Linked DNA regions of Homo sapiens. The protein of the gene in region 6 purifies or fractionates together with the protein of the main gene of each other region. This does not show direct contact. Each region holds a gene or a part of one and is shown on either strand. Other genes may lie near its edges.

Region 1 (3,500 bases), on a different chromosome or scaffold from region 6:
CGACCTCCACAGCCACATGGGACGTGACCTCCATAGTCACACAAAGACCTCCACAGCCACGTGGACGAGACCTCCATAGTCACACACGACCTCCACAGCCACATGGGACCATGGGACGTGACCACCATAGTCACCCAAAGACCTCCACAGCCACACAGACGAGACCTCCATAGTCACACAGAGACCGCCACAGCCACATGGACGAGACCTCCATAGTCACACACGCGACCTCCACAGCCACACGGACGAGACCTCCATAGTCACACAGCGACCTCCACAGCCACATGGGACGCGACCTCCATAGTCACACAGCGACCTCCACAGCCACACAGACGAGACCTCCATAGTCACACAGCGACCTCTACAGCCACACGGGACGCGACCTCCATAGCCACACAGCGACCTCCACAGCCACATGGGACGCGACCTCCATAGTCACACAGAGACCTTCAGAGCCACATGGATGAAACCTCCATAGTCACACAGAGATCTCCACAGCCACACGGGACGTGACCTCCACAGTCACGCAGAGACCTCCACGGCCACATGGGACGTGACCTCCATAGTCACAAAGAGACCTCCACAGCCACATGGACGAGACCTCCATAGTCACACAACAACCTCCATAGTCACATAGCGACCTCCATAGGCACACAGTAACCTCCATGGTCACACAGCGACCTCCACAGCCACATGGGACGTGACCTCCATAGTCACACAGCGACCTCCACGGCCACATGCGACGTGACCTCCATGGTCACAGAGACCTCCACAGCCACATGGATGAGACCTCCATAGTCACACAGCGACCTCCATAGTCACATAGCGACCTCCATAGTCACACAGCAACCTCCACAGTCACACAGCGACCTCCACAGCCACACGGGATGTGACCTCCATACTCCCACACAGACCTCCATAGCCACACGGACGAGAGAGACCTCCATAGTCACACAGCGACCTCCACAGCCACACGGAACGCGACTTCCATGGTCACACAGTGACCTCCACAGCCACACGGGACGCGACCTCCACAGTCACACAGCAACCTCCACAGTCACATAGACAAGACGTCCACAGCCACAAAGGACGAGACCTCCATAGTCACACAGCAACCTCCACAGCCACACAGACAAGATGTCCACAGCCACATGGGACGTGACCTCCACAGTCACACAGCGACCTCCACAGCCACACGGGACGAGACCTCCATAGTCACATAGCTACCTCCAGAGTCATATAGCGACCTTCACAGCCACACAGGATGAGACCTGTGTGGCTGTGGAGGTCCCATTCCTACGCTGGGCCTGCAGCTTGGGTGTGAGGGAAGGATGCCACCTAATACAAAGGACTAACCTCTCTCTTTCACTGACCATTATCACCTGGTATCAACATGTCATGAAGACAACTACTCCGTGACTCAAGAAAGACAGCCTGGCTTTCCTCAGAACTTGCATGTCAGCCGGGTGCAATGGCTCACGCCTGGAATCCCAGCACTTCGGGAGGCCAAGGCAGGAGGACTGTTTGAGTCCAGGAGTTCCCAAGGAGCCTGGACAACATAGGGAGGCCACACCTCTCTCTCTCTTTTTTTTTAAAGGGCCTGAGAGGTTTGTTTTTGTGCAACAAAAAACAAAAAAACCAGTTCTAAATCAAAACACAGCCTTTCTCTGAAACCTTTCTAGAAATGCAGTCTTCAGTTTTCTGTTGTCTCATTTAGCAACAAGCAGGACTAAAACATAGAGACACAAGACACAGAAGATGCACTTTCTTCAGGAGTTAGTTATTACAGACCGAAATTCAGGTCGTTCAATGGAAAAGATCCATGCCTTCACAACATTCTCCTCTACACACTACAGGAGGAAAATGATAAAAACAAAGTAACAAACAGAAACAACAGGCCAGCTGAGGCCCAAAAAGTGTAAGTGACAGGACTCCTAAGGTGTTTAGACGTAGAGGGAGAGTGAGCAAAACCAAAAACCAAACACGAAACCAAACCTTTCAAACTTGGGTGAGAATTGGTCCTTTCACATAAGATTCTTTGGCAAAGTATACACCACCCCACCTATACAAAAACTGAGACTTTATTTTGAAACACCAAGTCAAATGTATTGCCTGCTTGATCAGACATCAGTAATTTCACATTTGCTTTTCTTAGATTTCTATCCCATTTGCTTCCAATAGATCTGAGGCAGCTCATGCTTCAGACTCTGTGAGAGGCCAGAAGCCCACCTGTGCGTGGAGAGATGATCACAAGTAAGTGAATCAACTGATTCCACATATCCCCTGGTGGGGCAGCACCTCCAGAGATGCCCCTGGAATTTGCGATGTCTCATTCCAAGGAGGAACCAGTGACTGTCATTTTGGGGTAAGCACTCCTAGTTCTCAGGGTTTCAAGACAGACACCTAAGGCACCTACAAACATTGTTCATAATATCTAGTGATTGTTTTATAAGACATATCACTGTGTACAAGGTGTTGCAAAGTAATTCCGCCTTTTTAAGTAAAAATAATGAGGCAGCAGATATCAGACAGCCAAATCTCCAGGAAAAGAGTAGTAAGAAGCTTTAGCTGTAAGGTATCATATTTTATTAAACCAAAGACCTCTGAGAGTTCAGGTGGGACTCGTTTCTAGTCAAGACACAGTACAAGAACTGTATTAACTTTCTGCCTGAAATAACCACAAAATCAGGCAAAATATACGAAGCAACAGTTTTCGAAGCACTGAGTACTGGGCTATGAAAGACAGTGAATCTCAGAAAGATGGGAGACAAACAGGCCCCAACTGCTCAGCTTCCTGTGTGAAGAGCTTCCAGGTTGTGGTGTGGGGGCCCTGAGTAGCTGGGACTACAGGCATGCAACACCCCACTAGGCTAATTTTTAAATTTTTTGTAGAGATGGGGTTTCACCATGTTGCCTAGGCTGGTCTCGAACTCCTGGGCTCAAGCGATCAGGCCACCTCAGCCCCCCAAAGTGCTGGGATTACAGGTGTGAGCCACTGAGCCCAGACTCTCAATACTGTTAAGAATTTAATTCTCCTACATTGATCTGTAGATTCTATATACCGTCAATCAAAATCTTAGCACACTTTCTTATACAAATTGGCCGATTCTAAAATTCACATGGAAACACAAGGGACCAAGAATAGCCAGAAACCTGTGCAAATGTATGAAGCTGGGGGGCCAACACACCCTGATTTCACAACTCACTCCTCCTACTCCTACGTGGTTTTTGACAAAGGAGCAAAGGCAATTCAGTAGGGGAAAAGAGACTGAAAAACTGGACATTTGCAGGGAAAACACTGACTCTAGACTTTTCTTTGTATTTTTTTGAAATGGAGTCTCACTCTGTTGCTCAGGCTGGAGTACAGTGGCACAACCTCGGCTCACTGCAACCTCCGCCTCCCGGGTTCAAGCGATTCTCCGGCCTCAGCCTCCCAAGTAGCTGGGATTACAGGTGCCTGCCACCACGCCCGGCTAATTTTTTGTACTTTTAGTAGAGAT
Region 2 (4,257 bases), about 58 Mb from region 6:
GTTAAGTGGAATTCAGTGAATTCAAAGCCTAGCTTTTCTGATACCAGACATGGCACTTCAGAGAAGTTACAGTAACCTTGCAAGTCTGTTTCCTCACTAGTAAAAATGGAGATATATAATAATCTAATTGAAGGTGACATATGTATTAAGTGAGTTCATATATGAAAAGTGCTTAGCACTGGACTCAGCATATGGTAAATGTTCAGTAGGTTAGCTAGTTCTAAGACAGGCTTATAAACATACTTTTTCTAATGTACTCTTTAATAAGTTTTTGTGAGGAATTCACCTTCAGTTTGAAAGAAGTCCACTTATCTTGGTTGCCTTGGCAGGATTCTAATTGGGAGGGTGTCTTTTGGCATCCTGACTAGATTCTCATGCAGAGATGGTGATATTTTGGTTAAATGAAGTTAACAGTAAAGTGGTCATCTCTCTACTTCTGCTCTCAACCCCCATCTCAGCTTTCCCCAAGTATTCTGGAACCCTTTCTGAAGAAGAGGGCAGTTCTAACTTTCAGGGATGTTCTGGTGCCAGCTCAATATGCATCTCATTAATCTTATCAATAGTAACAAAGTATTTGAAGGGCAAAGAAAGATACGATTACTACCTATTTGAAGTTTATAAAGAAAGCCAGAAGAAAAAGAAAAAAAAGAGAACAAAAGATAAAGTAGGTCTTGTTTCTTCATCCACGCTCCAAATTACTGATTTCAAACTGCTCCAAGGACCCAAACTGTTCAGCAATGTGGGCTACACTTCCTCTGATATCCAGCCAACGCATAAAGAAGCTGACATAAAAACTCAAAGGAAATCATGACTCCTGCAAAACAAAAGACAAAGGGTGTACAAAGGATCATCATTCAAGTTGGAAACCTGCTTGATAGTCCCAGATCAGCACAAGGCTTTCCACATCTCCTTGACATTAGTCAGCTGGATGTCAGCTGTACTAAAGCAGTTTTGCCAAGGGGTGTGAAGAAAACACTTAAGTGTAAAACGTATTCCTTGATCCTCAAGGAGCTTACAACAGGGCTGGGGAGATTAGCCGTGTAACTGACACTCCAGGGCGGTCAATGAAACGTGTCACACGAGTTGGCAGGGGCCTTGAAGGAGAGGGATTTCACAGTTAAGGATCATTTGGGGCTGGGGGCTTGTCAAGGAAGGCTTTAAGAGGTGGGATGTAAGTGGCAGGCAGGGCTTTAGGTGGGCGGGAAATCCAGGCGATCCTGGCCAAGGACTCAGGCACAGGACGCTGGGATGGCCTGCCCGGCGGACCGGCCTTACCCTTTCGGGCCACGGCGCGTGCGTACCCCAAGGCTCGCGCTGGGCGCATTGCCCGCGGGAAGCCGGCCAGGACCAGAGAACACGGGACACCGCGGGCCAAGGCGGGAAAAGCCTCGCGCATGCGCGGTTCGGCGTTCCGGGCTCGCCGGGTTGGGGAAAGGGAGGTGGAGTTTCCAACAGGGAACTTGACCCGTTAGCAGCCGCAGCCATGGCGGCGCGTTCGCCTCCCTCACCGCACCCTTCGCCCCCAGCGCGACAGCTGGGCCCCAGGTCCCCACGTGTTGGGCGGGGAGCTGAAGTACACGCAATGCGCAGCGAGGCCTCGGGTTTTGCCGGCGCAGCGCGGGAGGTGGTCGCGGACGAAAGTGATAAAATCTGGGTGGGTGAAGAAGGGTCAGGGGGCCGGCGAGGGCCTGGGGGGGCAGCTCCGGCTCATGCTCCCCTCCTCAGCGCGCCCATGGGGTCCAGACGGCTAGAGGGCATCTCGGTAGAGGAGGCGATGGTGACCCGGACGCAGCTGCTGGAGGAAGAGCTGAGCAGCCTAAAGGAGGAGTTGGCCCTGTGTCAGGTATCGAGGAGTCTCGCAGTCCCCCTTTCCCCACCACAGCGGGGCCGGGACCCGTGGGGAGGCGCGCCTTTCTCCCTCTGCCTTGGGACCTACCCCGCCCAGCGACGCTCCCTGGCAGATGCACACCCTGCTTCGCTCGCGGCCGGGGGCTGGAGGGACGCGGCTGCGCCCGGCTCCCCAAACCCGGGCCCCTGCCCCTTTCCGAACTGCGGCCAGACAGGCTTCGCCTCCGCGCCCGGGTTTGGTTTTGGTCACTTGGATACTCGCAGTCGCATCCTCTCCGCTTCCCCCCCAAGCCCAAGTTCTTGGTGGTGACGGTAGCTGATACCTGCCGGGGGCCCAGGAGTGACATGCAGTCCACTAGTTGAAATGAACAGGAAAGTGTAAACACTTCGGTTAGAGTAAAATCCATCGATGAAGGAGCCTGTTTTTAAAATTTCAAACCCACACTTGGCTTTGTTTTTACCCAGTCAAACTTAAGTTGTAAACACAGACGAGTAACGTTTAGAAAGTCTCAGAGCCGGGAACTTAACAATAGATGATGCTTGGTACTTGTTTATTAACCAGCTATGGTAATTCCGCGGTCCTTGAGTGAGAAATCACATTTTCATGTGATCTTGCCAGTGAAAAACATTTGCTAAATCAATTGCATTAAAATTACTTTCCTGTTTGTAGAGTTTTTGTAAGGATGGACTTGACTATACTCATGTTCAAAGAGATTGAATTTTCCTTTAGTTTTGCATCCTTACCATCATCTCTTTTGATTTTACCAGAACCTTTAGATAGGGTTGGGAGATTGGATGTGGGAAACTCACTGAACAGTAGATCTTTAAGTCACTCTGTCTTCAACTTAGAAACCAATTAGGAGCTGCTGAACATCAAAGTAACTTTGTGAACAGTATCATCAGTTTAATAAAACAGTTCATGAAATTCATTCTCTGTCGCCCAGGCTGGAGTGCAGTGGTGCAGTCTCAGCTCACTGCAAGCTCCGCCTCCCGGGTTCACGCCATTCTCCAGCCTCAGCCTCCCGAATAGCTGGGACTACAGGTGTCCGCCACCACGCCTGGCTAATTTTTTGTATTTTTAGTAGAGATGGGGTTTCACCGTGTTAGCCAGGACAGTCTCGATCTCCTGACCTCGTGGTCCGCCAGCCTTGGCCTTCCAAAGTGCTGGGATTACAGAAATTCATTCTCTCATAGTTTGTTCTGTTGGATTCTTTTGCCCATTTTATAGGTCCTTGCTGACTGAGTGAAGGGTGTAAAAATGGGACCATCTTCAAATTGAATGTGCCTTTGGTTAAACAAGGTTGGGACATTTAATATGGTGCCCTCTTTTCGTTTTACCATTTTTCTGTTCTTCGTTGGATAAGGAGCAAAGGGATAAATAAATGACAACAATGAATTGAAGCATTTGTCATCTGCAGACCTCACCCTTTGGGGAGTTTTAAGATGTGAACCCATGATAAAGGCCTTTGATACTCTGAGTCCTAATCTAAGACACTCTTTGGCATATTTTCCGCACTCTTTCCTCCCACTTCTGCCTCCCCACATAGTTAGGCCTTTAGCTGGCTAAAGAGCTAAGATACTTTTTTATGACCGACTTGGTTAAGGAAGTCAGTCTATTGGAAACAGCCTGATGAACCTCTTCCCACAAATACTTACATTCTTTAAAAATGTGGCTCCAAACATGGTGTTGGCTTTTGTGACCTCGGACATATATAGACTAGGAAAATGATTGACATACTCTTGGCAAATGTAAGAATACAGAGATGGTCATAATAGTCTAGAATGATGATCTCTTAGATTTTGTAATATTAATACTCTTATATAATTGTAGGCAGTATCCCGCACCATAAAAATCTTAGTCAAATCAGACTCCTGCTCTTCGGGAATCTTGGGGAAAAATAGTAATTGAACTCCCAATTGTTTTGTAAAAAGCATTTAGGTGATTAAATATTCACTTTTATATCTTTTAAAGTATACTCTCCCGCTTATTTATTCAGCTAGAGATCACAGTACCCAAGAATACATAGCATTAAAACTGCTGAAAATTACAACTCGAAGTAAAATTTTGTATCTCAATCTAGTAAGTACACACATATACAAACATATATTTTCAGAAAGAATACATGCCCTAATACTGTGTGGGCTGATATTTTTTCAGTTCTATTCCTTTAAAAAATGCTGTCCAGATCTAAATTAATTTCAGAACCCAACAAGGCTTGAAACATACAGTTTAGGAAAAAGAACACTGCTAATTAGTCCATGGTCATAAGTAGTAGCTTCATTTAATTTGTTTTGCTTTCACATTCAACTTATGGGAATTCAGTGATGTGTGCTTGGTGAAGTTTGAGTAATTCCCCATACCATTCTACATCATTGGAATGCCTCAGAATAAGCATGTAATAGAAAGCA
Region 3 (3,500 bases), on a different chromosome or scaffold from region 6:
GGCGTTCCAAATCACTGATTTGCTCATGGCGAATCTGTAGTCGAATTGTATAATCTCCTTTCTCCAGTTTCAAAGAATACTGAAAAAGAAAAACAACATTTGGGAAAAGTTAAGTTTAACCAAGTCAACGGAAATCACTGAAAGAGGATAAAGTGAAAGTTACCATTCACAGACTTGTTCATAATATGTGAGGTACAGTGCAAGGAACTAACTATCCAGACGTTCATATAACACATAAAGTCCCTAGTACGCTGGTGAGCAGACAGGATCAGGGACATCAAGTGACTTGCCTAACATCACACAGAGTAAAGTATAAGAGAGCTGAAGTCAGGTCTGACTTCAAAGCCCTCATTCTTTCCAGAACGACAGAATACTCCCACACTTTTAGCAAAACTCAGTGTCTGCTTGAGAATGACAAAAGCAGTGATTTTCTAGTTCATGGGTCCCTCAGAGACATATAAGAAACACTACCAAAAAAATGAGCAAAATTGAGGCACCATAGAATATCTAGGACAAATACACACACACACACACACACACACACACACACACACACGTGTAACTTATGACTACTGGTAATCCTTATTTCCTTTTAGAGAGGGGGACTCACTATGTTGCCCAGGCTGAAGTGCAGTGGCTGTTAACTGGTGCAATCATAGTGCACCATAGCCTAGAGCTCCAGGGCTCAAGCGATCCTCCCACCTCAGCTTCCTGAGTAGACGGGATCACAGGCATGTGCCACCATGCCCAGCTGATCTTCAAATTACAACCAAAATGTCACTCCTTTATTACAGACAGGAAAAAAACAGGAAACCAATAGAGATCAAGGGATACAAATCTATTATCCACTTAACAGGTTCAAGAGGAAGAGATGCTGTATCCTGTGTCAGCCACTTTTTCTGAGATTTAAAAAGTAACCAAAATAATAGCACTGCAGTAGGCCAGTCTGTAATGAGATGTGACTGCTACTTGCTTTGAGGAAAATCGATACCATTCCTTTAACAACTAATTGAAAAAAATCTCCATAAATTATTTTCATTTGTCAACATAAAATTATACATATTACAGGAAATATCTCATTTCTTTGCAGTAATATCTAAGGGATAAAATGTCTATAAATTATGTGATTTTTCCCTTCAATAAAACAGCACAAAGCATAGTGCCTGGTATGTAGTAAGTGCTCATTACAGAGTTGTCCAACGAGGTAGTAAATTTAAAAGTACAAATGAACTGAAGACATGCGGCCACTGCTGCAGTGCTCTCTTTAGCCCCCTCAGACTTAGGATCATTTCAAGAGGCTCGCATCTCTTTGATGCATGCTTTGATGATTCTACCTTCAGATAGGTAGAATCAGTGTATAGGAAGGAGAAACACCACACACCAAAAGTTATGCTGGCCAGTGTGGGCAAGGTTCACCCTTGTCCTCCTCTAATTCAGCACAACTACATGGTGAAATAGTTGACACCATCTGTTCTTCACCGACTACAACAAACAGGCTCTCACAGTTTGCAAAAGTACTAAACACAAAGCTATAATTTTTGTTTTTTTTAAAGTATGAACATTACCATAACAAGAAACCAGGATTTTGTTAGTTCAGGAAACAGCTTCCGTTAATTCTAAAAATCACCATCAATTTTATACCTGATGTGGATAGGCATCGCCTGAACCCATCTGTCTTTTGTTCTGGTCAAAAATAATCCACAGTTGGCTGTCAAATTCAGATTCATATAATAGTTCACAAAGTAGTGGGCAGCTTGGAGTTACTTCCCCACTCTTGGGCTATTAAAAAACAAAAAAGATTACTTGGCATGATTTGCATATAATTTCTGATACAAATTTTTAATATTGTTATTGACATGAGACTTTTTCATTTAAAAAACATTAAAAATACTTGTGGTAAAAAATTTTGAAAATATAGAACACACAGTATTTTAGCACTTATAAAAGTCACTGCTCTCTTACAAACTTTTAAAAATACACACCTGGCTATGTGTATTCATTAATAAAGCAACATATACATACTTCAGGACCTCTAATTACTTTATAAAACTGAAATGTGAAAATTCACTGAAACCAATCCATTTCCCTAACATTATAACCAAACTGATGTGTGTTTCAGTAACAGTTTTATTGAAATCTCATTGATCTTACAACAATTCTTTGGTCCAGCATTTACACTGGCCTCCATTACTTTTGCCACCCATCCCACCTGGGAGCTACTCTGACCTTTCCCTGTTCCAGTGCCTTCTTCGCAGAAAGCAATCAGGCCCAGCACCATCACCAGAAGGCAGATGGTATTTCTGAGCCATCTAATCACCCCTGGGTCAGATGGCACCAATGGACAGTGATCAGTGATTTTATAAACTAAGGCTTAAGGCTAGGTCACCACTCAATTACATTTTGTGACTTTACAACTGAATGGTATTTAATTACAAATTATAATTTCCTAAAGAGTAATTCCAAATTAACTGTTAATCACTTGATTCTGTTTTTTATATATACCATATACACTGTCCTTCCATTTTTGATTCTATGAATCATAAATAAAACACAAAAGTTCATCCTAAGGGTACACTTTACTAGGCAAACACTTACTTGATGAAAGTTATATGTCAGGACCATCTCATAAAGTTGACGGTTATTTGGCAAAACATCTCTTGATCCTAAAGGTTTTGTTTTTGCACTCACTGGGCTGTAATGAGGAAACTACATAACTGGTTTGATTCAAGAGTTCATTGAATGAGACAAATAAAACCATATGCAACAAAATCTGTAACATATTGCAAAAAGTGCAGATGAACCTTCCTGAGAGCTATCCTTTTCAGTATACTCTACAATATTTTAATCACTAACTTACATAATTATTTGATTGAATCATATCAATACATACAGTTTAGATTTTGCAATAAATATGACAAAGGCAATCTTTTCATGGCAAAAACATTTTCAAATGTGAACAAACAGCTCTCAATACAACCAAATCCTAACACTAGGGTGACAACTAAAAGTGTTGCAAGACAGGTTCTGATTTGTACCCCTTGTGCAAACTGTTGACAGTACTGTGTTGTGTGCAGCACAGACCTCCCCAGACCCCTGCTGCTCACCAGATGGCAGGGGCCACACTCAGCCCTCCTCCTGGCCGAGGGAATGTTATTTCATATTTTTAGTAGTCCTCTGAAGGAAGTTGCTAATGTACAGATTTTATAAAGGAGAAAACTGACACTGAAGAGTAAGTTTTAAATATAGTTTAAAATGTCAGTGAAACATAATCTACTCTAAATTTAGCTCCAATTTTTTAGATTTAGGAAGAAAACATCAGGATGATATAAGTTGGATATATCTTCAAAAGCTGGATGTTTTAATTTTTATTGATAATTCTAGGAAGCAGTATATCTTTAGACATCACCGTGTCACTGACTATTGTCCCTAATTGGTTATTTTAATACACTTAAGACTAGGCTTCATGCCGATGAGTTAAGGTCAGATTAAACAAAAGAAAC
Region 4 (3,500 bases), on a different chromosome or scaffold from region 6:
ACTTAACACCCAGCTTAGCTGAGCAGTCTAGCCTTGTGGAGTGGAGTTATGGCCTGTCTTTCTCTGCAGAGTGGAGTGTGGGATTTGGGGCAGGGCCGTGTGGGACCAAGCAGGATGGAAGTCCTGCTGCTTCAGGCCAGGAAAGTAGGGACAAGGTTTGTTTTCCATTTTGCTAAAGGCTGTCAATCTGTATTCTCTCTTTTGCAGAACCGTGGGTACCGATGGATGTGGCCGAGAGCCCTGAACGGGATCCTCACTCTCCAGAGGATGAAGAGCAGCCACAGGGACTCTCGGACGATGACATTCTGAGGGACAGCGGGTCCGATCAGGATTTGGACGGGGCGGGGGTGAGGGCTTCTGATCTGGAGGATGAGGAAAGTGCAGCCAGGGGGCCGAGCCAGGAGGAGGAAGATAATCACTCCGACGAGGAGGACCGGGCAAGTGAGCCTAAATCCCAAGACCAGGACTCAGAGGTGAATGAGCTGAGCCGGGGCCCGACCAGCTCCCCCTGCGAGGAGGAGGGGGACGAAGGGGAGGAAGACCGGACAAGCGACCTTAGGGATGAGGCCTCCTCAGTCACCAGGGAGCTGGATGAGCATGAGCTAGACTACGATGAGGAGGTTCCTGAGGAGCCAGCTCCCGCCGTCCAGGAGGACGAGGCTGAGAAAGCGGGGGCTGAGGATGATGAGGAGAAAGGCGAAGGCACTCCCAGGGAGGAGGGGAAGGCTGGTGTTCAGAGTGTGGGAGAAAAGGAATCCCTGGAGGCTGCCAAGGAGAAAAAGAAAGAGGACGATGATGGAGAAATCGATGATGGGGAAATAGACGTGAGTATGATGGAGCAGAGCGTCGCGGGGCATCCTGCCCAGCAGCCTGACATAGACTGGTGCTGGAAAGGAGGGACTCTGTGTGGGACTGACTTAGTGATTTGTTACTAGGGATGGTGCAGGAGAATGAGAGGCTTGTTTTGGGTTCAGTCCCATAGTGATTGGAGAGAAAGAGCCAGAAATCGAGAATGAGCAGAGGCAGCTCCAGAAGCTGCCAGCAGGGTTTCCGTGGCCCTCGGCCGGCCAGCTGGTGGGATTGTTTGGGTTGTAGTGAAAGGTCCAGCGCCCAGTGTTTTTAGGTTCTAGGAATGAAGGGTTAATGTCTGTCCTTGTCTTTGCCGTCTTCAAGTGATACTCAAGTTAACACTCAACCAGAAACCACGTGGGTTTCCACTCTTGTCAGGTTTTTGGACTGAAAAGAATGAGGAAATTTTCCATCTGGTTTTGGATGTTTTAGGCATTTTTATGCTGGTCCTAGAGCCTGACCTCTGGAGAGGGCACCAGCTGGGCCAGGCCTCTTTGGACATATCCCTGAAAAGACTGTGGTGGGCACCTCAACTTCTGACAAAGCCAGCACACTTTTTTGTACATTAAATTAATGTGGCCTTCAGGTTGAGGGGAAGGTAGTACTATCTATGATCCTAGGTATGGGTAGGTGGGGTTTTCTTAGCAGTTGATGCCGTTGGAAAAACTATGAGTGTTTCGGGAGAAACACCCCAAAGTCCTCCTGAGTGATACTTGCCGGAGCTATTGAACTCAAAGGAGGTGAGCAAGGGACAGAGCAGTTGAACTGAACTGGGTTTTTGTTGTTTTTTTTTTGAAAGATCCTGGGGAAGGGGATTGTGCTTATGGGGAGTCATTGCGGTGAAGAGTGTCTGCCGAGAGTATCTCTCTGATGTCATGCTCTGGGTTGAGGCAGGTAAAGGCTGCCAGTTAGATGTGTAACCGCCGGTTTGCCTTGAATGCCATGCTCCTTTTTTTTGAGAGAGAGAGTCTACCCTGTAACCCAGGCTGGAGTGCAGTGGCGCCATCTCAGCTCACTACAGCCTCTACCCCCAGGTTCAGGCAATTATCCTGCCTCAGCCTCCTGAGTAGCTGGGATTACAGGCGCCCGCCACCACTGGCTAATTTTTGTATTTTTCGTAGAGATGAGGTGTCGCCCTGTTGGCCAGGCTTGTTTCAAACTCCTGACCTCAGGTGATCCGGCCGTCTCAGCCTCCCACAGTGCTGGGATCACAGGCGTGAGGCACCACGCCCGGCGGGTGCCATGCTTCTCCAGTAGCATGCTGGCGTGCGTGCTCTCAATGCACGTTTGGATATGACTTTCCGGCCATCGCTGCTCTCTGTGGCACTGCTCAGTAATTTATAGGGTTTGAAGTATTGCTCATGTGACTTTACGGGACGTGTGTGCACCTGCAAGCTGAGAATTTTAGATGTTTCATCTTTCCGCAGCGAAGTGTAGGAAGTGGTCTCCTCAGCTAGTGCTTTTTGCAAGAGGAGACCTACCCCAGGGCTGGCAGAGGGAAAGGAGAGACGGTGAGATTCAGGTTCATCAGCTGGGGGAGCTGGTTGGGTTGAGGATGCCCATGAGACTGAGTTTTTGTGTCCTGGGGGTAACAGCCCTGTCTGCACCACCACTGGGAGTGCAGCAGGTCCTGCACCCAGGGCTCTGGCGTGCTCTAGTTCCTCTTAAGAGGACTGGCTGCAGACCCTCAAGTCTTGGGGGAGATTCATCAGACGGATCAAGGGTCCCCATAGTGGTCCTGAAAGGCCATGTCTGTGGAGCATACTGTGAGTTCTCAGTGCCGCACCATGGGCGCGGGCGGTGCGGTAGATGGGTCCAGCTGCTCTGGAGAATGGCCCTGGCTGCCAAGGGCCTGGACATGCTGGTTTCCCCTAGACACAGCACATGGAAGAAAAACCCCATTTGCCATTTTTGCCTACCTAGACCTTGCCTGCCCTGCCTGGCACCGTCTTGTGAGGGGACCCACAGTTGAAAACGGAGTGCTGCTGTGGAAACCCCAGCACAGCTCCCTTGGCAAACGGGGAGGCAGGTTTCTTCCACCGCACAGACTGCCTCCAGCGCCCCACATCCCCCATAGGTCTGTGCTCCTGGACACCAGCACAGGTGGACCTTGCTGTGCCACATGCTGAGTGTGACTGGGCAGGGCGGAGCAGAGCCCGCTCCTGCTGTGGGGGCAGCAGGCCTTTAACCAAGGTGGGCAGTGCTGTGAATGGTGGGTTCAGCCTCTACAAGAGCACATTTGACTTCAGGCCCCTGGGTTGCTTGCCCCAGGAGCCCCCGTGGTCTCCTCTTGTTCCCACGCCCAGCAGCGTTTCAGGCTCCTCCATCCTTTATGTGTCAACCTCAGCATTTGCGTAGGCTGTTTCTCTGTTGCCTCTGCCTCTCTGTCGTGACACAGGTTCATCTGTGTGTGTGTGTGTGTGTGTGTGTGTGTGTGTGTGTGTGTGTGTGTGTGTGTATATGTATATGTCTCTGCCTGCTGCTTCCCCTATTCCCAAGAACATGTTTCCTAAGACTGGGGGCTACCTGGCTGGTTCCCCTATCTCCCTGGGGCCTGGCACATAGTGGGCAGCCAGTCAGTAGAGGAATCCTACTTGCCCGGGGCACATTGAAGGTGAGAACCTTTGTAATGTGAAGTGGCAGTGAGTGGA
Region 5 (3,500 bases), on a different chromosome or scaffold from region 6:
CATCACAACTGCTGCAGGTTGATTAACCCCTTCTTTATGTGAGGTTGAAAATCCCTGAAGGATGTTCTCTTGGCTTCTACAGCTATAAGGATACTTCGATAGAACAGGAGCCTTGGAATTCGGGCAACTGTTATCAGCCTCAAGGCCATTGGCAGCCTTTTTGCCTTTAGAGAGCCCTTCTGAGGAGGATCTTCGAGATGAGGCCAGGGCTCCAATGGCCTTAGAACAGCCAGAGTTTGCAGCCTGAGTTACTTGACTTCCGTTGCCAAGCACGTGTCCCCTCTTGCCAAAGACAGTCTCAGAGGAGGTGTCAGAAGCCTTGTCAGCTCTACCCAATGGGTCACTGGGAACAGATCCATGGGTGGTGTCACTAAACGTTCGTGTTGTCTTCTCCACTTTTCCCTTCAGTCCGCTCTCGGTGCCTGGCTTGGAAGTCCCCTTCCACGCTTTACTGTGCTCCTGAGCAGCCGGGGGGTAGCGACTCAGCACTGAGGGCTGCTCCCTAGACTTCTTCCCTTCGCTCTGGGAGGAGCCGGGTACAAACCGGTCTTCAGTTTTCTTTGTCTCCTGAGTCCCACTGTCTGTACTCACCCCCATGTGAGAAGCTTTTGCTGCCCTCCTGTTGGTGAAACTGGGAGAAGAAACCTGCCTGTTGCTCAGAGAATAGTTTTCATTGTTGAGAGCAAACTCCCTGTTCCGGAGTCGTTCCCGCTTATGCTGAGGAGACAGTTCCCGCGCTGTGTGCTTGGACACAGAAGCTTCACTTCCGTGGCCTCTAAACTTAGTCCTCTCATGTCTGCCTTTGCTGGACAGGAAAGCATCTTCCCCTTCTACCTCTCCATTTTCTAACTCTTTCTGTTTCTTGATTTGTAGCTTTATCTCCTCCAGTTGGCTGGCTAATAATTTGTTTTTATTTTGTTCACTTAGGTAATTATCCTGAAGGTCGTTATTTTTGGACTTCATTTTCTTAAGCTCTTCTTCCAACGATTCAAAGTGTTTGATTTGTGTCTTAAGTTTCTCAATCTCTTGGTTAAGGTCTTTGACTTTGTTGTCTTCCTGATTGCGGTTCTTTTCATTTTCTGATTTGTTTCTTGTTTCATTCTCTACCTGCTTTAGGTAGTCCAGACCACCCTTCCTTCTTGATTCTTTGGACGGCAGTGTGGAAGAGATGCCATCCTCAATCCGTAGGTCATTTCTTTCCAGATTAGAAGCATTCCTTGTATAATCTCGGTTCATTTTTTTGTTCTGCTCTAGTTTTTGAGTGAGTTCTTTTATCAATTTCTCATTTTCTTTCTCCTTTTCATTCAAGTATTTTCTCTCACTTACAAAGCTCAGAGTTAATGATTTCAGCTTTTCTAACTCTGACGCTAAACTCTGCTCAGTTTTATCCAGGCGGTCCTCAGAAGATTCTAGTTCTTTCACTTTGACTCTGAGCATTTCCAGCTCAGAGGAGATTTTCTTGGTCAGATTTCTCTCCTCATTCAGGCTCAGACACAGCTGGGTACAGTCATTCTTACTCCTGCTGAAGGCCTCTTCTAGCTTCTCTAATTCAGCCATTCGTTTCTGAAGCCGCTCAATCTCAGATTTCAGCTCCCGGGTGAGGTTTTCTTCCTCTTCAAGTTTCTCCTTCATCAGACGACACAGATCCTCTGCTCTCTTAATTTCCTCGTCTTTGCCTTCAATTCTCAGCACCCGCTGGCGCAGCACTTCAATCTCCGCCAACATGCTGGAGTTGCTACCTTCTGCCTGAATCACCTTGTCCTGGAGATCCAGGAGTTCATCCTCTGCTTTCTGGAGGTTTTTTGTGGCTTCCTCCAACTCATCAAGGCGGCGGCTTAGACTCTGTAGCTTAAACCGCAAGTGGCGGCTGGAGGCCGTCTCCTTGTAGCTTGTAAATTCGGCCATGTCTACTGCCAGCCAATGTGGGCTCCTAGAGGCATCCAATTCCACTCAAGGGGATGAGAAATGGTTACCTTTCTCTTGGCAACCACAATCTTCTTTGACAGCTGGAGACCATCATCAATCTACAAAAGGAAAGTAGAAAGCATGTCAGTCAGCAAATGTAAAACCTGCACGTTAGCTCCCAGTTATAGAAAAGTGCTCCTATCTGTTCCTGGTGCCTGGATCATAGCAGGGGCTCAAACCTGTTGAATGAATGACTTGAATAAACCTGCAAGAAAACACTGGTTCTTTATGGCCGATATTGAGTTGATACCTCATTTCGCCCTAATAAAGAATGTCACCAGTGGCAGCATGGCAAAAAGACATATAAGAAGCCTCAATTTTCATGGCAGGGTATAATAACATCATTACCATCTGCAACCTGCATAATCTCAGGAGAGTCATTAACAATGGAAACTAAGTCTCAGTTTTACTTAGTGGTAAAATGGGCATAATGATGTCTACCGTATTTCTCCCCAGTGTTGTTCTGAGATAATATGTGGAAGATCTTGGTAACAAAGCAATAAACAATCCTAAGATTTTTTTTTTTAAAGATTATCTCTTATGAGCTATTGTGACTTAAAAGTGATACAAATTAACCCTCTGCCTTGCTATAAATGGTGAGCTTCACAATATACTAAAACAATCTCTCTACACCCATTTTCAACATCTCTTCTCCCAAAAGTATATTTGTAAGTGGAATTCAGGTGTGAGTTGGCCCGACCCAGCCAACAGGCAGCTTCTACAAAACATATCCTTTTGCACTGTAAAAGAAATGCCCCAGATGTTAAGGTTGGTATGAAGACTGGTTTGTTTCTTTGAAAGCCATTTCACTGGGGATATATACCAAACATATAATAATACCCCAAGGAAATAGAGAAAGGGGAAGGTTTAGTTTTTTTATGTAATTTTCTCATTTTTAAAACAGGAGAATGGATTGATAAATGTATTTTAAACAGCTTTCATGAACAATAAGTCCTACGAAATTAAAAGGCAAACAACAGACTTCCATTTCCACCACTACAGCAAACCAGATAACCTGGAAAACCTCTAATACTATAAAACAGCTAAAAATACTGAATAAAATGTAACAATCACTTAAAATGTATAGTTGATCACATAGAAAGTAAGTGACATTCCAGCTAAAACCAGAGGAAAAGAAAACTAAATGAAAAATAATAGTAAGTTTAAACTACCACTGAGCTGTCCTTCTTAGGGTCTTGCCGATCTCCAGAACCAAGGAGTTTGGGTTCTAACAATCATGCAGGTATAAGAGGCAAGAGTTTGGGCTCAATAGAGGTGGTAAGTTGAAAATGAGACTCCAGTCCCCAATCTAAAGCAAGGATTATTGAAGAACTACAGCTCCAGGATAACTAGTGAAAAAAGTCACCTCCCTGATATAGGGAGATAAGAGGACCCGGGCTCTATTAGGGGTTAAAGGAGGATTATCCCTAGAGAATTTATAATCTTAGACCTGCTCTCACTTGAATTCAGAGTTCAAATTTATACCATCTGAGTGGTCTAGAACCTATCTGTCCTGAGAAACTAACATAAAATGG
Region 6 (3,500 bases):
CAGCGCCACTGCACCCCAGCCTGGGCAACAGAGTGAAAAATAAAAATAATAAATAAATAAATAATAATCAATAAAATAAAATGTCCTAACAAAAAATAAAGAGAGAGAAGAGACACATATGTATTGAAATTTCTGAAAGCAAATACTCAAACGTAAAGTTGTCAATCAATACGGAGGCAAAGGAGAGGAGGAAAAGGAGCCTCTCTAAAAGATCTTTAAATAAGACTGAATTCCATCCAATAGCTTTCGTTAAATATATACCCCTAAATCAGGGGTTCCTAACCTGGGACAGAGGTTAGGTGGATTAAATTCTATCCATCAAGAGGTCTGTGGATAGAATTCACTGAGTCTCTGAAGGGAATGGGAAAAAATTACATTTTAATTTCAGAAACTGATTTTTTCCCCTCAATTACGGATGCAGGCAACAAACAATAGTTTTAGCAATACCTATGACTTTATCACGAAGAGAAATCACACATATTTTCACTTCACATTAGCTGAAGTTCTCAAAACAGTGTATATCCCATTCAGCATTTTCATAATACATTTCATAATTATACTTGCAGCTAAATTGTATTTAAAGTGATATATGATTTAAAAAAACATGCATCACAAATTTACTTTTTAAATATTTTGATAACTGTATTTCAAAATCAGTTTTCTTTGTAATCATATGCACTTAAATTTATTCACTTAAAATTGTTATTCTGGGCCAGGTGAGGTAGCTCACACCTGTAATCCCAGCACTTTGGGAGGAAGACACAGGCGGATCACTTGAGGTCAGGAGTTCGAGACCAGCCTGGCCAACATGGTGAGCCCATGTCTCTACCAAAAACACAAAAATTAGCCAGGCGTGGTGGTGTAAGCCTGCAGTCCCAGCTACTTCGGAGTCTGAGGCATGAGAATCACTTGAACCCAGGAGGCAGAGGTCGCAGTGAACCAAGACCACACCACTGCACTCCAGCCTGGTCAAGAGAGTGAGACTGTCTCAAAAAAATAAATAAATAAATAAATAAATAAATAAAATAAAAAAAAAATTATTCTGAAAAGCAGACCATGGGCTTCAGACTGAACAATGGTTCCAAGGCATAAAAAAGTTAAGAATCTCTGCTTGCTCAGAGGTACAGATCCCTCACTTGTTTACAACTATGTCATAATGAGGGGAATTAAAAGTTTAGTTTTTTTGCTTTGCCATAAAGCAAATTATAAAAAGATACACATCATTGATAATTTTCGACCTAACCTTATTATTTAATTTCTAAGTAATTTCCCCTAAGCACCAGCATAAAAATTATTCAAAATAACAACTGTAATCTCACACAGAGCATCCAATAACAAATGTTAACACTTACACATGTAAAACATACAGGCACACAGCAACTATAACAATGAAGCGAGACTGTGAAACATTTTATCAAGAAACTCAAGTGTTCATACACTTTAAAAACTTGGTTAAAAATGAGGTACTATTTACCATCTCTCTTTTGGAAAATTTTTTAAAATTTCTTTAATGATTGGCTGGTAACAGGCATCCCTTTCTGCTTTCCCAGTTTCACTCCAGTCTCTCACAAACTGTTTCAGCGTGGATTTTAACTTATCCATGTCAAATGTAGATGCTGGCATAATCTTTCCATTCCCCTGTTTAAAAAACAGACATCAATTAGCTTCTGAGAGAGTAATCCACTTATATTATGGTTAAATAGACATGCTACTAAGGGGCTATATAGGTGGTTTAGTGGATAAATCACTAGCCTCTCACCTCAACTGGGGTTCAAGTGCAGCTTGAGATCCTAAATGAAAAGAGTTTGGTGGTCTCACTGCTACCCTCAAAAGATTAAGGTCCATTAATCATAAAACCACCATATAATTAAGCAGTCTTTACTCAGGAGAGGACCAAACTGAGCTGCTATGGAGACCGAACATCCTCTCTAAGAGAGGGAAGAAAGTCCCTCCAGGTCATTGATGGGGCAGCATGGAGAGGCTCACACTGGAGTGGCCCAACTGTATCCATCCTGTGGATACAAAAAGAGGACTTCAGTTTCTATGTACTGCCAGTCCCTTGAGATTTATAAGTGAAAACAATTTCTTACAATAAAAGATGAACAGCAATAGATACAAGACACTGAAAAAATATGAGTTAAGCAAGGGAAATTAATTTCTAGCTAGTAAAGTTGCTTTTAAAAATTTAAGTCACTAACCCTGTATTCCAAAACAGAACATTATGTCAAAATGCATCAAAATCTCAACAGTTATATTAGTACTTAAAAAAGGAAAACAAGTGAACAGATCCAGTCTCTGGCTATTAAGCCTAATCAAATGACTGAACATTTAAGTTAAAACTTTCTGAGTAGAGCAAATAGCCTGTGCCAGATTATAAAAATGAAATCCAGAAAATAAAAGACCTCAAAATACAGAGGTTGACCCTAAAATAAACAGAAATAGAACAAACTTTCACATACATCTTCTCCATATTCTTTATTTTCAAACATATGTATGCAATCATTCACAATGGTCAGTAGTATTTCTTGATTATGATCAATGCATTTCCGGATCTTGTCCAAGTGAAGAAGAAACTGAGGAAGTAGTTTCTGTTGGTTAGCTGGAAGTGATCGAAACTGTCTTTCTGTTCGGTTCACCCGCTCATGCATACTGGTGCTAAAACATAAAAGGTGTTTTTTAAATTCACAAAAGAATTCTCACCAGAGGCCAATCTTACTTTAAGGTTGTCTTTCTGTACAATTATTTCCTTATTATGCTGGATACTGTCCTATCATTTACAATCTCTTGGCTTTAAAAAGGCATTAACTTATAAAGTTGTAAATGTTTTTACTTTATTACAAGTCCTTCTCTAAGCAACCAAAATACAAATGGTTTATCACTAGTAAAAGTAAACATATGCACCAATTAGAAGAGGAAAAAGAAGATTAATGTACAATTAATTTATTTTTGTGTTTTAAACTTAAAATTTTCAGCAAAACCAGCTTTAGATTTTTCCATCTTTAAGTAGCAAAATAAATACTGCTATGAAATTATAATACACACAAAATATGTCCTGAAATTAACTAAAAGCTAACCAGGTTGATTTTTTTTAAATATCATAGAAGATCTTATATACTACAAATTACTAAGCAAATAAAAAATTAAAATTCTATAGTGTTTTACTTAACAATACCCACAATTTGCATTCCAAAAACGAACCCAAAGGTCACTTTGGGGACTACTTATTCATAAAACCAGAAAATAGAACATAATTTTTACTTATATTTACTTATTATTATTATTTTTGAGAGGGATTTTCGCTCTTGTCGCCCAGGCTGGAATGCAGTGGCACAGTCTCGGCTCACTGCAACCTCTGTCTCCCAGGTTCAAGCCATCCTCCCACCTCAGCCTCCCAAGTAACTGGGACTACAGTCATGTGCCACCACACTTGGCTAATATTTTTGTATTTTTTTGTAGAGATGGGTTTCATCATGTTGCCCAGGCTGGTCTCAAACTCCGGG
Region 7 (3,500 bases), on a different chromosome or scaffold from region 6:
GATGATGCAAGAGACAGGGGAGAATTGCTCAGAGGAGCAGATGGGATATAATGCACAGGCAGAAAGGTACACCTTTGGCCAGAAGTATGGATAGTTTAGCCAGAGTAACAGAAGAAAGCAGAGTAGATGGGCACAGATGTTGTGGAAGCTGTCTTCCGATTACTCCAATTTTCTCAGAGAAAGAGCAAACAAGATCAGCTGAGAGTGAGGAGTGGCGAGGAGGTGTTTGAAGTCTGAGGAGAGGCTACAGTATAAAATTAAGACATATAGGAGGAAAGAGATGAACTACAATACAGTACAACTGTCCAATAGCACTAAACATGCACGTGAGGATAGTAAACCTGTGCTATCTCCAGCCACACTCAGCTGCATTGGTACAGGCAAGGAGTAAGCCGAGTGTCAGCTTTCATTAGGCTTGTGGTTTAGCCAAGCAAGCTTGAGAGAGAGGCTAGAAAGATGAAAATTATTCCCAAAAGAATTATAATAGTTGATTGGAATTAAGTGGAGGGAGAAAGAAAAAAGGACCTAAGAGGACTGAGGACCAGTGAAAAGGTGGGAGGCTCAAAAAATTCAAGGTCACAGTAAGGAAATGAAGAGAGAGTTTAGAGGACGTGGGAGACACAAATGATAGAATTTTAGAGAAGTACATTTTAGAATTCAGAGCAACTCAAAATATTTTCAGTAAAACTGGAATTTGAGAATAACTAGCCAAGCAGTAACCATCTTAAAATAAATAAAACTATTCTTGAGGTGGGAGAAATAGATCAGTAAAAGTATTTTTCAATAAATGCAGGGTAAATACATGTGCATATAGACACACACATATCTTTAAGTTTCAATTAATAATGAAATGCTTATAATGCCACTATATTTTGAGAAGTACAATATTTCTAAGTTACAGTATTATTTCTACTATCTTTTTGATGACCACAAATTACATGTCCCACTACTACTTCACATTTCGGAAAACTAAGGAACTTTTAACATAGCTTCTTAAATCAGAGCCTCTGTAGAAGAGAACAAAAACTAGGGTGTTCGTGATGAAGAAATGTTTAAATACATTTACAATAATTTCTAATACTACTTGATCTAGTAGTATGCATGTAAAAGTGATTTTTCAAGTTAAGAATGACATTCACTGTAATACAATATGCCATCTTTTTATTCATAATTATGTAGGAATTCTAAGACTTGGAAGCAGGTCTTCAATAACTCTTTAATCAGGGTACCTACATGAAGAATGACGCACCTGTAAACTCAAATTGCAGTCAATCATATGAAATGAAGGAATTAAAATGCAAATGGGGACATTATTCATTACTTCTTGATTATAATTTCATGGGAATAGAGATGAAAGAAAAATCAAGTCAATACTCTTCCAATCTATCCATTTACCTGTACTGGTGGCAGAGTTGCTCTGTCCTTCATCTGAATACTGACAAGGATACTGTAATGGCTCATCTGCTCCTGGAAAGTACTATATATAAAAAAGTAAACCACAGCTTAAAATTTCCTTAATACAAATTAAATCCTGATTAATGTTTTATTTTCCCTAAGTTATATACTAAATTTGTAGGTGCCTAAGTTTTTTATTTTACAAAGATTACAATAATGTACTCTTGGATTTCAACTTTGATCAATGCCATGCACCTACCTAAGAATCTAGCTTACATTGGAGTCTAGATAGTCTTGAAGAAAACAGCAAATATTTCTCTAGAGAAACATATGAAATAAAATAGTATCATTTCTCATAATTATGTAAAACATACTCATGTTCTTACAGTAGTGATGTAAACTTCCAGTGACTGTTAGTCTGAAGACTGAGACTAGTATACCATAGAATAATTGTTAGAACATTTTAAATATTAAGAGGATAGATTATGAATGTCTTTCTACAAACTGGAGGCATAATACTCAAAGTATCTGCTGGACAAAAATGTTAGAATTTAGAGAAAAAAAGGAAACGTATTCTCCTCAAATTAGACAAGGAACAGAGAAGCAAAATTACAACTGCAATAACTTATATATCCTAAAGTTTTAAGTAATCTGACTACAGAGACTAAGTTGTTTTCTTATGCACACACCTTTAAGGCCTAGGCTTCTATATATGACTGGTATCCAAATACGATGGTAAACTTTTAGTAGATTAGTTCAAGCTGCTTTGCGTAAGAAATTTTCAATAGATTGAATAAACAACGTTTTACCATTTAGGAAATTACTTAGTCTATATTTAAGGAGATTGTAAGATTCTTCTACTGAACAAACTGTTTCAAAATTCAGGCACTTTCATAGATATTTGAACTTTTTAAAGCCAAGATACCACTTCACAGTTTTTGTTAATGTACCAAAAACCAGAGGCGTAAAATATTCCAAATAATTCTAAAGGCGCTTGATTCACAGACTAGGAAAATTTGATAATCATTTAAAAGGGTTCTTCTAAATAGAAGAAAGTTTAACTTTTTACTGGGATATAAAAACCTGAAAATAGGCCAAATAGTAAAAGTCACTCAAATAAATGTGTCTGAGAATGCAACCTATTGCCTTGCATAAATGACTAAATGCTTGATGAAAATTGGTATCAGAAAAATGTAAAATTTAGTTTATCATGTATTGAAGTCATAATATTAATATATCCAAGTCCTGTGATGGCTTTAGAGACTATCTATTTCAGTTTCTCCCACATTACAAATGAGGCAACAGGCCCAGAGACAAACATACTTGTCCACTAATGTAAGCAAAAAGAAAAAAGCAAGTCTAGAAACCTAGTCTAGCCATCTTTCCAGTGATAAAGAACTAGATTTTCCCTCTCGAAATGTTTCCTCTTCTGACTATGAGTAATAAATGCCCATTCTCACTTAGAAAACATAGCAATATATAAAGCAGAATATAGTAATAACATCCCTTTTAAAATTCCATTAAAACTCAGCACATATTAAATTCCCCTAAATCCAAAGCCCCTCAAAAGAAGGATTATACCCGCATCAAGTGAGTCATTATTTTCACAATTTCCTCCATTGAAGGGCGCTGGGAAGGATCTTTAGACCAACAACGAGTCATCAGGCTCTCAATGGGCTTAGGTAAATTTTTTATCAGTGGTGGTCGAGTACCTACAATTGAAAATGAGAGGAAGGGGGGAAGAATGTATTTACCCAAAGAATGATGCAAACTCTTTGTACGTATTTCCAAAGTGGTATTTATTTTATAGATCTTGTAGTTTAAGATCTGTAATTTGGAGTAATAAAAGTGCTTTGTAATTTTATCAATTAACAAGTTAGTTCTTTTACTCTTTACTTCACGGACGTTCAATTATTTACTGACAACTGATAGAAAGCAAGCAAGCAAGCTGTCCTGGTCAATGCTGAACAGTCTCCACAATGATACTAATGGTAGTAATATTAAAGGCAGTATAGGAAACTGGTAAAAACAGCTAAGATTACTCAGATGATGGTACTGTTTGATAAATCTATGAATGACCTAAATAATTAGGCAGACATTTGTTT

The links.
Region 1: the proteins of CARNMT1 (region 6) and CUL4A purify together in Homo sapiens (affinity purification with mass spectrometry, with the first as the bait; one large-scale study listed by BioGRID). This does not show direct contact.
Region 2: the proteins of CARNMT1 (region 6) and CNTLN purify together in Homo sapiens (affinity purification with mass spectrometry; 2 studies listed by BioGRID and IntAct, with this or other methods). This does not show direct contact.
Region 3: the proteins of CARNMT1 (region 6) and TPP2 purify together in Homo sapiens (affinity purification with mass spectrometry; 3 studies listed by BioGRID and IntAct, with this or other methods). This does not show direct contact.
Region 4: the proteins of CARNMT1 (region 6) and ZC3H18 purify together in Homo sapiens (affinity purification with mass spectrometry; 3 studies listed by BioGRID and IntAct, with this or other methods). This does not show direct contact.
Region 5: the proteins of CARNMT1 (region 6) and LUZP1 purify together in Homo sapiens (affinity purification with mass spectrometry; 3 studies listed by BioGRID and IntAct, with this or other methods). This does not show direct contact.
Region 7: the proteins of CARNMT1 (region 6) and MAP3K7 purify together in Homo sapiens (affinity purification with mass spectrometry; 3 studies listed by BioGRID and IntAct, with this or other methods). This does not show direct contact.

Annotation. Positions count from the first base shown.
Region 1 is NC_000013.11:113,212,613-113,216,112, reverse strand, and holds part of CUL4A (cullin-4A), read right to left. Parts: intron 1-3,500. UniProt on the Homo sapiens protein: Core component of multiple cullin-RING-based E3 ubiquitin-protein ligase complexes which mediate the ubiquitination of target proteins. As a scaffold protein may contribute to catalysis through positioning of the substrate and the ubiquitin-conjugating enzyme.
Region 2 is NC_000009.12:17,133,583-17,137,839, forward strand, and holds the start of CNTLN (centlein), read left to right. Parts: upstream 1-1,457; 5' UTR 1,458-1,483; coding exon 1,484-1,843; intron 1,844-4,257. UniProt on the Homo sapiens protein: Required for centrosome cohesion and recruitment of CEP68 to centrosomes.
Region 3 is NC_000013.11:102,645,486-102,648,985, reverse strand, and holds part of TPP2 (tripeptidyl-peptidase 2), read right to left. Parts: intron 2,693-3,500; coding exon 2,596-2,692; intron 1,780-2,595; coding exon 1,642-1,779; intron 80-1,641; coding exon 1-79. UniProt on the Homo sapiens protein: Cytosolic tripeptidyl-peptidase that releases N-terminal tripeptides from polypeptides and is a component of the proteolytic cascade acting downstream of the 26S proteasome in the ubiquitin-proteasome pathway.
Region 4 is NC_000016.10:88,576,903-88,580,402, forward strand, and holds part of ZC3H18 (zinc finger CCCH domain-containing protein 18), read left to right. Parts: intron 1-207; 5' UTR 208-221; coding exon 222-824; intron 825-3,500.
Region 5 is NC_000001.11:23,092,357-23,095,856, forward strand, and holds part of LUZP1 (leucine zipper protein 1), read right to left. Parts: intron 2,025-3,500; 5' UTR 1,906-2,024; coding exon 1-1,905.
Region 6 is NC_000009.12:75,014,794-75,018,293, forward strand, and holds part of CARNMT1 (carnosine N-methyltransferase), read right to left. Parts: intron 2,656-3,500; coding exon 2,460-2,655; intron 1,639-2,459; coding exon 1,475-1,638; intron 1-1,474.
Region 7 is NC_000006.12:90,549,073-90,552,572, forward strand, and holds part of MAP3K7 (mitogen-activated protein kinase kinase kinase 7), read right to left. Parts: intron 3,108-3,500; coding exon 2,977-3,107; intron 1,478-2,976; coding exon 1,396-1,477; intron 1-1,395. UniProt on the Homo sapiens protein: Serine/threonine kinase which acts as an essential component of the MAP kinase signal transduction pathway. Plays an important role in the cascades of cellular responses evoked by changes in the environment.